Homo sapiens: one gene and its partners. The protein of the gene in region 1 interacts with the protein of each later gene in a pairwise test. Each region holds a gene or a part of one and is shown on either strand. Other genes may lie near its edges.

What was found.
Region 2: the proteins of SLC29A2 (region 1) and ALOX5AP interact in a two-hybrid assay, tested with the Homo sapiens proteins (one large-scale study listed by BioGRID).
Region 3: the proteins of SLC29A2 (region 1) and SERINC2 interact in a two-hybrid assay, tested with the Homo sapiens proteins (one large-scale study listed by BioGRID).

What each region holds. Positions count from the first base shown.
Region 1 is NC_000011.10:66,361,976-66,365,499, reverse strand, and holds the end of SLC29A2 (equilibrative nucleoside transporter 2), read left to right. Parts: intron 1-1,075; coding exon 1,076-1,275; exon of another isoform or gene 1,276-1,952; coding exon 1,953-2,064; 3' UTR 2,065-2,979; downstream 2,980-3,524. UniProt on the Homo sapiens protein: Bidirectional uniporter involved in the facilitative transport of nucleosides and nucleobases, and contributes to maintaining their cellular homeostasis. Functions as a Na(+)-independent, passive transporter.
Region 2 is NC_000013.11:30,749,039-30,752,692, reverse strand, and holds part of ALOX5AP (arachidonate 5-lipoxygenase-activating protein), read right to left. Parts: intron 642-3,654; coding exon 571-641; intron 1-570. UniProt on the Homo sapiens protein: Required for leukotriene biosynthesis by ALOX5 (5-lipoxygenase). Anchors ALOX5 to the membrane. Binds arachidonic acid, and could play an essential role in the transfer of arachidonic acid to ALOX5.
Region 3 is NC_000001.11:31,430,184-31,432,820, forward strand, and holds part of SERINC2 (serine incorporator 2), read left to right. Parts: intron 1-2,637. UniProt on the Homo sapiens protein: Non-ATP-dependent, non-specific lipid transporter for phosphatidylserine, phosphatidylcholine, and phosphatidylethanolamine. Functions as a scramblase that flips lipids in both directions across the membrane.

The DNA of each region.
Region 1 (3,524 bases):
AGAAACCCCATCTGCCCCCAAGGGGGTCTGTGGAACCACCAGTGGGTGCTCTGAGGAACCGAGTACGTAAACTGTAGATGCGGTGGAGAGCACAAGCTGGAGCCTGGGAGAGGCAGAGGTGAGCCCCAGGCCAGTCCCTGATTTCTGGGTGGACTTGGCCCAGGCCCCAGTGCTGGGTCCTCCCTCACTGGCTCACAAGGTAGGTCAGGTCAGAGGAGGTCAGGGGGTGACAGATGGGTCTATCCTATGGGTGGGCCAGGCGTGGTGGCTCACACCTATAATCCTAGCACTCTGGGGCTGGACGCGGTGGCTCACACCTGTAATCCCAGCACTCTGGGAGGCCGAGGCGGGTGGATCACGAGGTCAGGAGTTCGAGACCAGCCTGGCCAACATGGTGAAACCCCGTCTCTACTAAAAAGATAACAATTAGCAGGTGTGGTGGTGCACACCTGTAATCCCAGGGAGGCAGAGGCTGCAGTGAGCCGAGATCGCACCACTGCTCTCCAGCCTGGGAGACAGAGCGAGACTCTGTCTCAAAAACAAACAAACAAAAAAACCCCTAAAATCCGAGCACTTTGGGAGGCCAAGGCAAGAGGATCGCTTGAGCTCAGGAGTTCAAAACCAGCCTGGGCAACACAGTGAGACTTTGTCTGTACACACACACACACACAAATTTTTAATGAAAAAAATAGAGGCCGGGTATGGTGGCTCACGCCTGTAATCCCAGCACTTTGGGAGGCTGAGGCAGGTGGAACACTCGAGGTCAGAAGTTCGAGACCAGCCTGGCCAACATGATGAAACCTGGCTCTACTAAAAATATAAAAATTATCTGGGCATGGTGGTGGCAGGCGCCTATAGTCCCAGCTACTCAGGAGGCTGAAGCAGGAGGATTTCTTGAACCCAGGAGGTGGAGGTTGCAGTGAGCTGAGATCAGGGCCACTGCACTCCAGCCTGGGCAACAGAGCGAGACTCCATCTAAAAAAAAAAAAAAAAAAAGTACTCTATGGGTGTCCTGAGATGCCCTGGAGCAGAGACCTGGCTCCAGGGACCATGCTGACTTCAGCTTCTACCACAGCCAGACGAGGACAGCCGGCTGCTGCCCCTGCTGGTCTGCCTGCGGTTCCTGTTCGTGCCCCTCTTCATGCTGTGCCACGTGCCCCAGAGGTCCCGGCTGCCCATCCTCTTCCCACAGGATGCCTACTTCATCACCTTCATGCTGCTCTTTGCCGTTTCTAATGGCTACCTGGTGTCCCTCACCATGTGCCTGGCGCCCAGGTCCGGGGCAATGGGGTGGGGTGGGGGGCTGGGAGTAGGGAGGTGGGTTCAGTCTTTGGGAAGGGACCGCCTGCAATGGAGGGACGGCCCATCCTGCTTCTGGCCAGCCCAACCCTAGCTGTCTGCAGGCCTTGCTGGCGCCCCCTACTGGGCCAAGCCTTAACTGCAGGGGAGAGAACTGGGCTAGGGAGGTACCCGCCCAACCAAGTAGCCCAGGCACTGGTTCTGGGGCCGCCTCAATGTGCCTCAGTTTCCCCATCTGTAAAAAAAAATGGGTTGAACTGTCATCCCTCAGGGCCCATCTAACTGTAAAATTCTCAGTTGAAGGAGAGCTAAGGTTTTGACCAAAAACAAGGTCATGGGCTATTTCCTCAAGGGGCAATGGAGTGGAGAATCCAGAGAGAATGAAGCTGGCAGGGCAGACAGGCTGAGAGCACTGTGGAAAGGGCAGGCTGTGGAATCTGGAATCCCATCATGTTAGACTCAGAGGCCCTGAGAGACATCCTTATCCAGCAGCCTCATTTACAGACCAGGAAACTGAGGCCCGGAAAGAAGGGGCCAGTTATGGTGACAGAGGGGTTGGGTCAGAGCCCAGACTGGATGGGCAGAGGGCAGTGGAGCTGGGTCCAGATTTAGACCCAGCATTTTCTAAGAGCTCCTGTTCCCGGGTGTTCTAGGCAGGTGCTGCCACACGAGAGGGAGGTGGCCGGCGCCCTCATGACCTTCTTCCTGGCCCTGGGACTTTCCTGTGGAGCCTCCCTCTCCTTCCTCTTCAAGGCGCTGCTCTGAAGTGGCCCCTCCAGGCTCTTTGGCAGCCTCTTCTCGACGTCTCCTTCCGGAGCTGAGATCCAGCCCAGGGCGAATGGCGAGCTTGGCTCAGGCCTCTGCGGGGTGGAGGCCCCTGGGCCTGAGGCTGCCAGCAGCGGGCAGGAGCTGCTCTTCATCCACTTGGAGTGCTGTGGGGAAGAAATCACCACCGGTCATTCTAACCCTCACCCAGGAATGGGGGTGACTCGCACAAGACCTCATGGAAAGGGTGATGACTAGGGAAAAGAGGGTGCAGGGCACGGCTGCTCCCCACCACCAGGTCTGCATTTGTTCATCATCATCAGGAGCAGAGGTGACCAGAGGGTTCAGAGTGGGAGGCGGGGCCAGCCCAGGCCAGGAGCGCCTCATCTTCCCAGGCCTCAGCCACCCAGGGTAAAAGGTGCCAGGGAAGTTGTGGGCACCTGAGAGGAGGAACAGATGTGGAGGACCTGAGGGTGCTCAAAGGGCCAGGCTCAGCCTCAAGCAGTGTTTTCATTGCCAACACTTACTGTACCCACTCCGCAGAGCCCAGCTGGGCCTGGGCCCCAGGGCCACAGCTAGCCTGCATGTGTGTACTGCACTTTACAGTTTGCAAAGCTCTTCCATACCCACTCTCTCACCGAAGCCTAATTGAGGCTCTTGGAAGGAGTCAGGCAAGGATTGTGCTTCCCCCATTATACAGGTGACAAAACTGAGTCCTGGGGAAAGTGACTGGTCCGTGGTAGAGCCGGGACCCAATCCCCTCTCTCTCCTCCCTGTTGGTGCTGTTCTTCCTGCCCAACACCTGTTTCTCTTTTCCTCAAGGGGTTTGGGGCAGGAGCCTGGGCACTTACTCCCCGTTTTTGCTGTTTCTCCTTCTGACCCTGCTCTTGGGTCTAATAACCCCATTTATTTGTATGATGCGTTCACCAAGTCTTTATTTCCGAAGTGCTGTTGGCTCTATTGGCCTCAGTGAACTGGGTGGGGTCGGAAAGATTGTACCCCCTTGACAGGTGGGATGACTGAGGCCCTGAGAGGGGTAGGGATTGGTGGGCATCTCTGTGCTGGGTCCTCTGGACCACATGATAGCTGGGGGGTACTGACCTGCAAGGAATCCTGAGCTCCTGGGCAGAGCACCTAGTTGGATGGACAACTATTGCTCTCCCACTCCATGAGCCCCTGGGCTCTCACCAGCATCCTCTGCCTCCCCAGGATAGCTCCTCCTTGGAAATCTGGCCTTAGAGAGGCAGTCAGTGTGGGCAGGGCTTTGGCGACCCCACCAATTCTACACACGGATGGAGGAAAGGCCTGCTTCACCACACACCTATACTACCCTGCCCGTCCCAGAGAAAAGCAAGGGTTTTCTGCCCACCTGCCTTTGTGAACATTCACTGAGCACCTATTAGATATTAGGTGCTCAGCCAGCACAGGGTACCTGCTCAGAAGCCAGGGGCTTTTTGGCA
Region 2 (3,654 bases), on another chromosome or scaffold:
AGGCGTGGCCCCGAAAGGGGACCAAAAGTATGACTGATTTCCACTCAATGTTAAATCAACTCTGGAAGTTGATTTGTCTTTCCAACTTGCTCAAGTCAAGCCTGTGGGCTGCTGATAACTGTGGGAAGGCCGGGGATGTGGCATCCAGCCCGTGGCTCAGTGGAAACATGCCTGAAGGAGGGCCACCACACTGGAAGCTTATTAGCAGAAGAGCCAAGTGACAGCGGTCCCAAAATAGATCCCTCAGGCACTCTCATTTATAATGCCCTTGTATCTGAACTAACACTGCTTAAGGATTCTGAGTCACATTTAGCCTTAAACCACCCTTGTCAGCACAGCAGCTCTCAGCCAGCCACCAGGGAGCAAGCATTAGCAATGCATTATCACACGCGCTCTGCACGGGTGCAGAGCATGCCTGAAACACGGCCTCCCGAGGGCTCTCACCTCTCCAGGGCTTCACAGATGGGAGCCAGAGGTCAGGCAAAGTCCTTTCAACAAAAAGCCTGCCCTTTGAACCTCCTTGAGATGCACTTTATAGAAGGAGAATGAACAAAGGGAAGTCTGAGTTACCTTGGCTGCAAAGTAGCCCCGCAGACCAGAGCACAGCGAGGAAAGTGGGGTACGCATCTACACAGTTCTGGCTGCAGAATAAACAAACAAGGAGAAAAACAATCAGAGACCAAGTTAGTGCAATGTGGTCTGAAAATTACCTGAAAGTTGAAGTTAATAATCACCATCGTGCATGAAACATAAATCCCATTCGTAATTCCACTTACATCTACCCAATAAGATGGGGCAGCCAGCTGCCACCTGGGAAACAAACAATGGTATAAAGCAAACACATGTTCATAATCCATTAACTCTGTTCCTACGGTGATGCGTAAGGGAGACTTGGTTTCTTGATGTATTCCTCTGGCAGGGTTCCTGTTCCTGGCGGTGCCCCTGCGCTTCTTGGAATTGAAGAGTGAGCAATGCAGACAGAGGATGTGGCCACACTGGCATGGGGGTGGTCGGGGAGAAGAGCCCAACTAAGGAAACTTTTCTATCAGATCCACAAATCAGCCCAGGTCTGCAAGCCAGGCTGAGCAAAGAAGGGTGATCTTCAAATGTTAAAGACAACAAAGTCAACTCAAAAAAGCTGGTGCTCAGAAACTTAGCTTACTAAGAGGGTGATCACTGTATGCTGGGCACAGTCCTCACTCCCTGGAGAGTTCTCACTCTACCGTGGATGTTTTGCACCCTTCCTCTCTTTTTAACTCACCATATTCCTGTGAGTTCACATGATAACTGTATGAGTTTCCTCTTGCTGCTGTAACAAGTGGCCACAAACTGAGTGGCTTAAAACAACACGCCTTGTAATCCCAGCAATTTGGGAGGCTGAGGCAGGCAGATCACAAGGTCAGGAGTTCAAGACCAGCCTGGCCAACATGGTGAAACCCTGTCTCTACTAAAAACACAAAAAATAGCCAGGTGTGGTGGCAAGCACCTGTAATCCCAGCTACTCAGGAGGCTGAGGCAGGAGAATCACTTGAACCTGGGAGGCGGAGGTTGCAGCGAGCCAAGATCACACCACTGCACTCCAGCCCAGGCAACAGAGCAAGACTCTGTCTCAAAAAAACAAAAAACACCCTTTTACTATGGTTCAGGATGTCAGAAATCCAAAATAAATCTCAAAGGGCTATAAAGTCAAGATATTAGCAGGGCTGCAATCCTTCTGGAACTTCTAGGGGAGAAACCATTTCCTTGCCTTCTCCAGCTTCTAGAGGTCACCTGTATTCCTTGACTCAGAACCTCCTTCCAACCTGAAAGTCAGGGATGGCCCATCAAATCTTTCTTATTTTGAATGACTCTGACATCTACTCTTATGCCTCCTTCTTCCACATTAAAAAGACCCTTGTGGTTACATCAGGTCCTACCCAGATCATCCAGGATAATCTCTTTATTTTAAGGCCAACTGGCTAGCTGCCTGAATTTCCCCTTGCCATGTAACATAACATATTCACAGGTTCCTAGGATTAGGATGTGGGCATGATTGGTGAGGGGGCCATTATTCTGCCTATCACAATTGCTCTCATGTTTCCAATAAGGAACTCAGGCTTGGAGAAGCTGAATAACTTGCTCAGGGTCATCCAGCTAGGGAGTGGCAAAGCCGGGATTCACACCATAATCAGTCTGTCTCCAAAGCCATGTCTGTTAACTCTTCAACTATACTAAATTAAATCATAGGTGTCCTCCTGAGAAGTCTGCAGTCCAGATCAGGACAATAAATATGCCCATCCATGAAAAACAGTGTAACTAGACTTGAGAGGCATAAAAAGGGAGGGAAATAAATACAGAGGAAAGGTCACTTGACTAGGATTAAAGTCTCCATCCTGACTTTAACCAGCTGTTCACCATTGGCAAAACAATCTCTCTGGATTTAGTTTCCTTATCTGTAAAACTGAGAGACTGATTATAATTCTGAGGTCCATGTGAATTCTCACAGTCCATGGTCGAAGGTGGCAGTTCTCCAGGCATGCTCTCGGGACCAGAGGCGGCAGCAGCATCGAGAACATGTTAGAAATGCAAATGTTCACACCCACCTCAGGCCTTCAGAATTTAAAACTCTGTGTTGGGGCCCAGAAATCTGTTTTAACAAGCCCTCCATGTGATGCTGATGCCTGCTGACGTTTGAGAACCACGGGTTTCATGTGATTATATAGGTAAAAACAAAGATGCAATTTTCAAACTGCTCATGCAAACCATTAGGGTCTCATGCCTCAGTGGTACCACTGAGAACTTGGGAATGGCCAGCCCTTCATCTGTGCCCTGCAGAGAACCCAGAGAGATCAGGTTATCTGCGCCTCACCAATGGAATCTTCGTGGTCCTCTGATGGTCAAAAGATCCTTTTCTGGAGAAGTCTATGAAGGTAACAGATGAGAAACCTACCCTGGAATCCAGGCACAACCAAAAACCAGGAACAGGACAGAAAGAGCAGACCCCTGCTGACCTTGCAAAGTGCTCTGAATCCCAGAATTTCCACTGATCTAATGGACACGGTAGGAGCTCCAAAGGGCAGGAGGCCCCTACAAATTTATCACTGGGGTGAAGTGCTTAGTGAATAAACAGGTCCCCAAGTAACAATTGCAGCAGCTACTGGGCACTGGCATCACATCTATTCTTATATGTTACTAGAGGCACAAAATTGCAGCCTCAGGACTGAGAAAATATGATTCATTTTCCAGTTCAAGAAACTTAGAGAAAAAATTCCTTTTTTGGTTATTCGAATAACATTCTGTGTCTGATGGGGTAAAATATCTGGTGCTCTTATTGTTTAAAAACTTATTAGTACCAAAGATTTCCCCTGCTTCCTTCTCTTTCTCATGTTTCGGGTCTTTGGTTTGTTTTTAAGTAGCGATTTTGTCTGGGTTATGCAAAAGGAAAAAAATTCTTAATTGTCTAAGGGATTTGCTCATTAGAAATGTGAACTGCCTAGTGATTTGACATTGGGTCCGTATTCAACCATTCCTGACTATTAGTTCAAGTCACCTTCGTTCCTAATAAAACATGGTCAGCCTGGAGTTGAATGAAATTCTCCCAGCTGTAAGAAAATGGGTTCCTCCTGTGGATTTCCAGAATATTCTCAGAGCCTTGTTCCTGGCTCTGGCTCAAGC
Region 3 (2,637 bases), on another chromosome or scaffold:
GTTGAAGGGCTATAGATGAATCAGTATGTGTAAAACACTTAGAAAGGGGCCAGGCATGGTGGCTCACACCTGTAACCCCCAGCACTTTGGGAGGCCGAGGTGGGAGGATCTCTTGGGCCCAGGAGATTGAGACCAGCCTGGGCAACATAGTAAGACGCTGTCTCTTTTTAAAAATTAACAAAACAAAACAAAAACACTTAGAAAGGAACTTGGCAAGTAGTAAGTTATTTGTAATCCAAACACTTTGCCAGACTGAAGCAGGAGGATTGCTTGGGCCCAGGAGTTCAAGGCCAGCCTGGGCAACATGGTGTCTCTAAAAAAAAAAAAGGTTTTGTAATTAGTCAGGCATGGTGGTATGCACCTTCTAGTCCCAGTGACTGAGGAGGCCGAGGTAGGAGGATCACTTGAGCCTGGGAGTTTGCCAAATTAAGTGTTGCATATTATTGTGAACATTTGCATAATATTGTGAACATTTGTATATTAGTATGAGCATAATATTGTGAACATTTGCACAACTAGGTAGCTGTAGGTGGTGGCTGTTCTTACAAGTCACTAGATCATAAGATTAGGTTTAATTATTGTTTACACGGATCAGGCAGACCCTGAGTTTGCCTCCCTGTGGCCCTGCATTTCTCCAAGCACCACTTTCCATCTGCCCTTAACTCTAGAGGGAATCTTGGCTCTGCTCCCCTGATCTCCCCGATCCATCCATCCCAGTTCCAACAGCACCCCTGCCCCCAGGCCCCTGGGCTAGAACATTTTAAAGCTCTTTCACATTTTCTTCTGTTTTGGCCTTTTTCAAAACATTTTCTCCAAGTCAGTTCTGTACAGTTCATAAACATCTGTCTTCTTTGTCACATTTGATTCCTTTTCAAGCTGGAAAGGCTTGAATTACCTCTGTGTCCTCTCCTCTCCCCTCCCCTCCCTTCCCCTCCCCCCTCCTCTCTCTTTTCTTTTTTGAGACAGGGTCTTCCTCTGTCACCCAGGCTGGAGTGCAATGACACAATCACAGCTCACTGTAGCCTCAAACTCCTGGGCTCAAGTGATCCTCCCACCTCAGCCTCCTGAGTCACTGAGACTACAGGTGCATACCACCATGCCTGGCTACTTAAAAAAACATTTTTTTTTTTTTTGTAGAGACACTATGTTGCCCAGGATGGCCTTGAACTCCTGGCCCAAGCAATCCTCCTACCTCAGCCTGCCAAAGTGTTTGGATTACAGGAGTGCACCACTCCTGGCCTGATTACCTTCATTTTACAGATAGGGAAACTGACAGCCGGGGAGGAGGCCATGAGCACATGGTGGCCGGTGGCCAAGGAGCTTGGAACTCTTTCCCTGCCCCTGGTTCTCTGTCCCTTCCCCTCCCCGACCTGGCACAGCTGTTTTTCCTGCTGCTTCCACACCCACAGCTCCCTGGCACATGCACTGCTGAGAGCCCAGGGGCACAGGTCTGTTCTTAGCATGGTTCTTACAGCACAGGCAGCAAAGAAGCATATGCAACCCATGAGGGCCAGGACCACCCAATCTGGGCTCCCATGCATGAGATATCCATATGGTATTTGGTAGATAGGGTGGAGAGGGTGGAGAGGGTGAATAGGGTGGATAGGGTGGATAGGGTGGACAGGGTGGACAGGGTGGATAGGGTGGATAGGGTGGATAGGGTGGATAGGGTGGATAGGGTGGATAGGGTGGACAGGGTGGACAGGGTGGATAGGGTGGATAGGGTGGATAGGGTGGTTAGGGTGGATAGGGTGGTTAGGGTGGTTAGGGTGGTTAGGGTGGATAGGGTGGATAGGGTGGATAGGGTGGATAGGGTGGATAGGGTGGATAGGGTGGACAGGGTGGACAGGGTGGACAGGGTGGACAGGGTGGACAGGGTGGACAGGGTGGACAGGGTGGTTAGGGTGGACAGGGTGGACAGGGTGGATAGGGTGGTTAGGGTGGATAGGGTGGACAGGGTGGACAGGGTGGACAGGGTGGATAGGGTGGATAGGGTGGATAGGGTGGTTAGAGTGGAGAGAGTGGACAGGGTGGAGAGGGTGGATAGGGACCCACTGACTCACAGCAAGGGGTGATTTCTCAATTTGCTGGGGTGGCGGGGCTGGAATCCAGCTCTCCTTTTCACTTTTGTTTGGAAACGTGAGTTGGTTTTTCAAAAATTTTTATGTCTCAAACTATCAAATTCTGTTAAAAACATCAAGGCTCATCACAGAAAAGCATGACATACAATCATTACTGTTGTTCTTTTTTTAGTGTAAGCATGAAGGAAAGGGAGGCCATTGGTAAAACCACCTGACACTAATAAAATGGAAACTTAAAATCAATGGCAAATGAGCGTGATTAATTATTAACATTCTTAATGGATGTAGTACCTGGTATGGTACTTTGTAGTATTAGGTACTCGATACGTGTTTATGGAAATGGCAAAGGAACAATCCTAACAATAGTGACTGTTGATTGAATTTATATTCTGTGCCAAGCACTATGCTAGAGACCTTACATCATTATTCCGTCTAGTCCCCCCAGCAGCCCTCTAGAGGAGGTACGATTATCCCTTATTTTACAGACAAGGAATCAGAGGCTCAGAGAGGTTAAGTGTTTTGCTCAAGGTCACACAGAAAATGGGAGTGGGGGTAG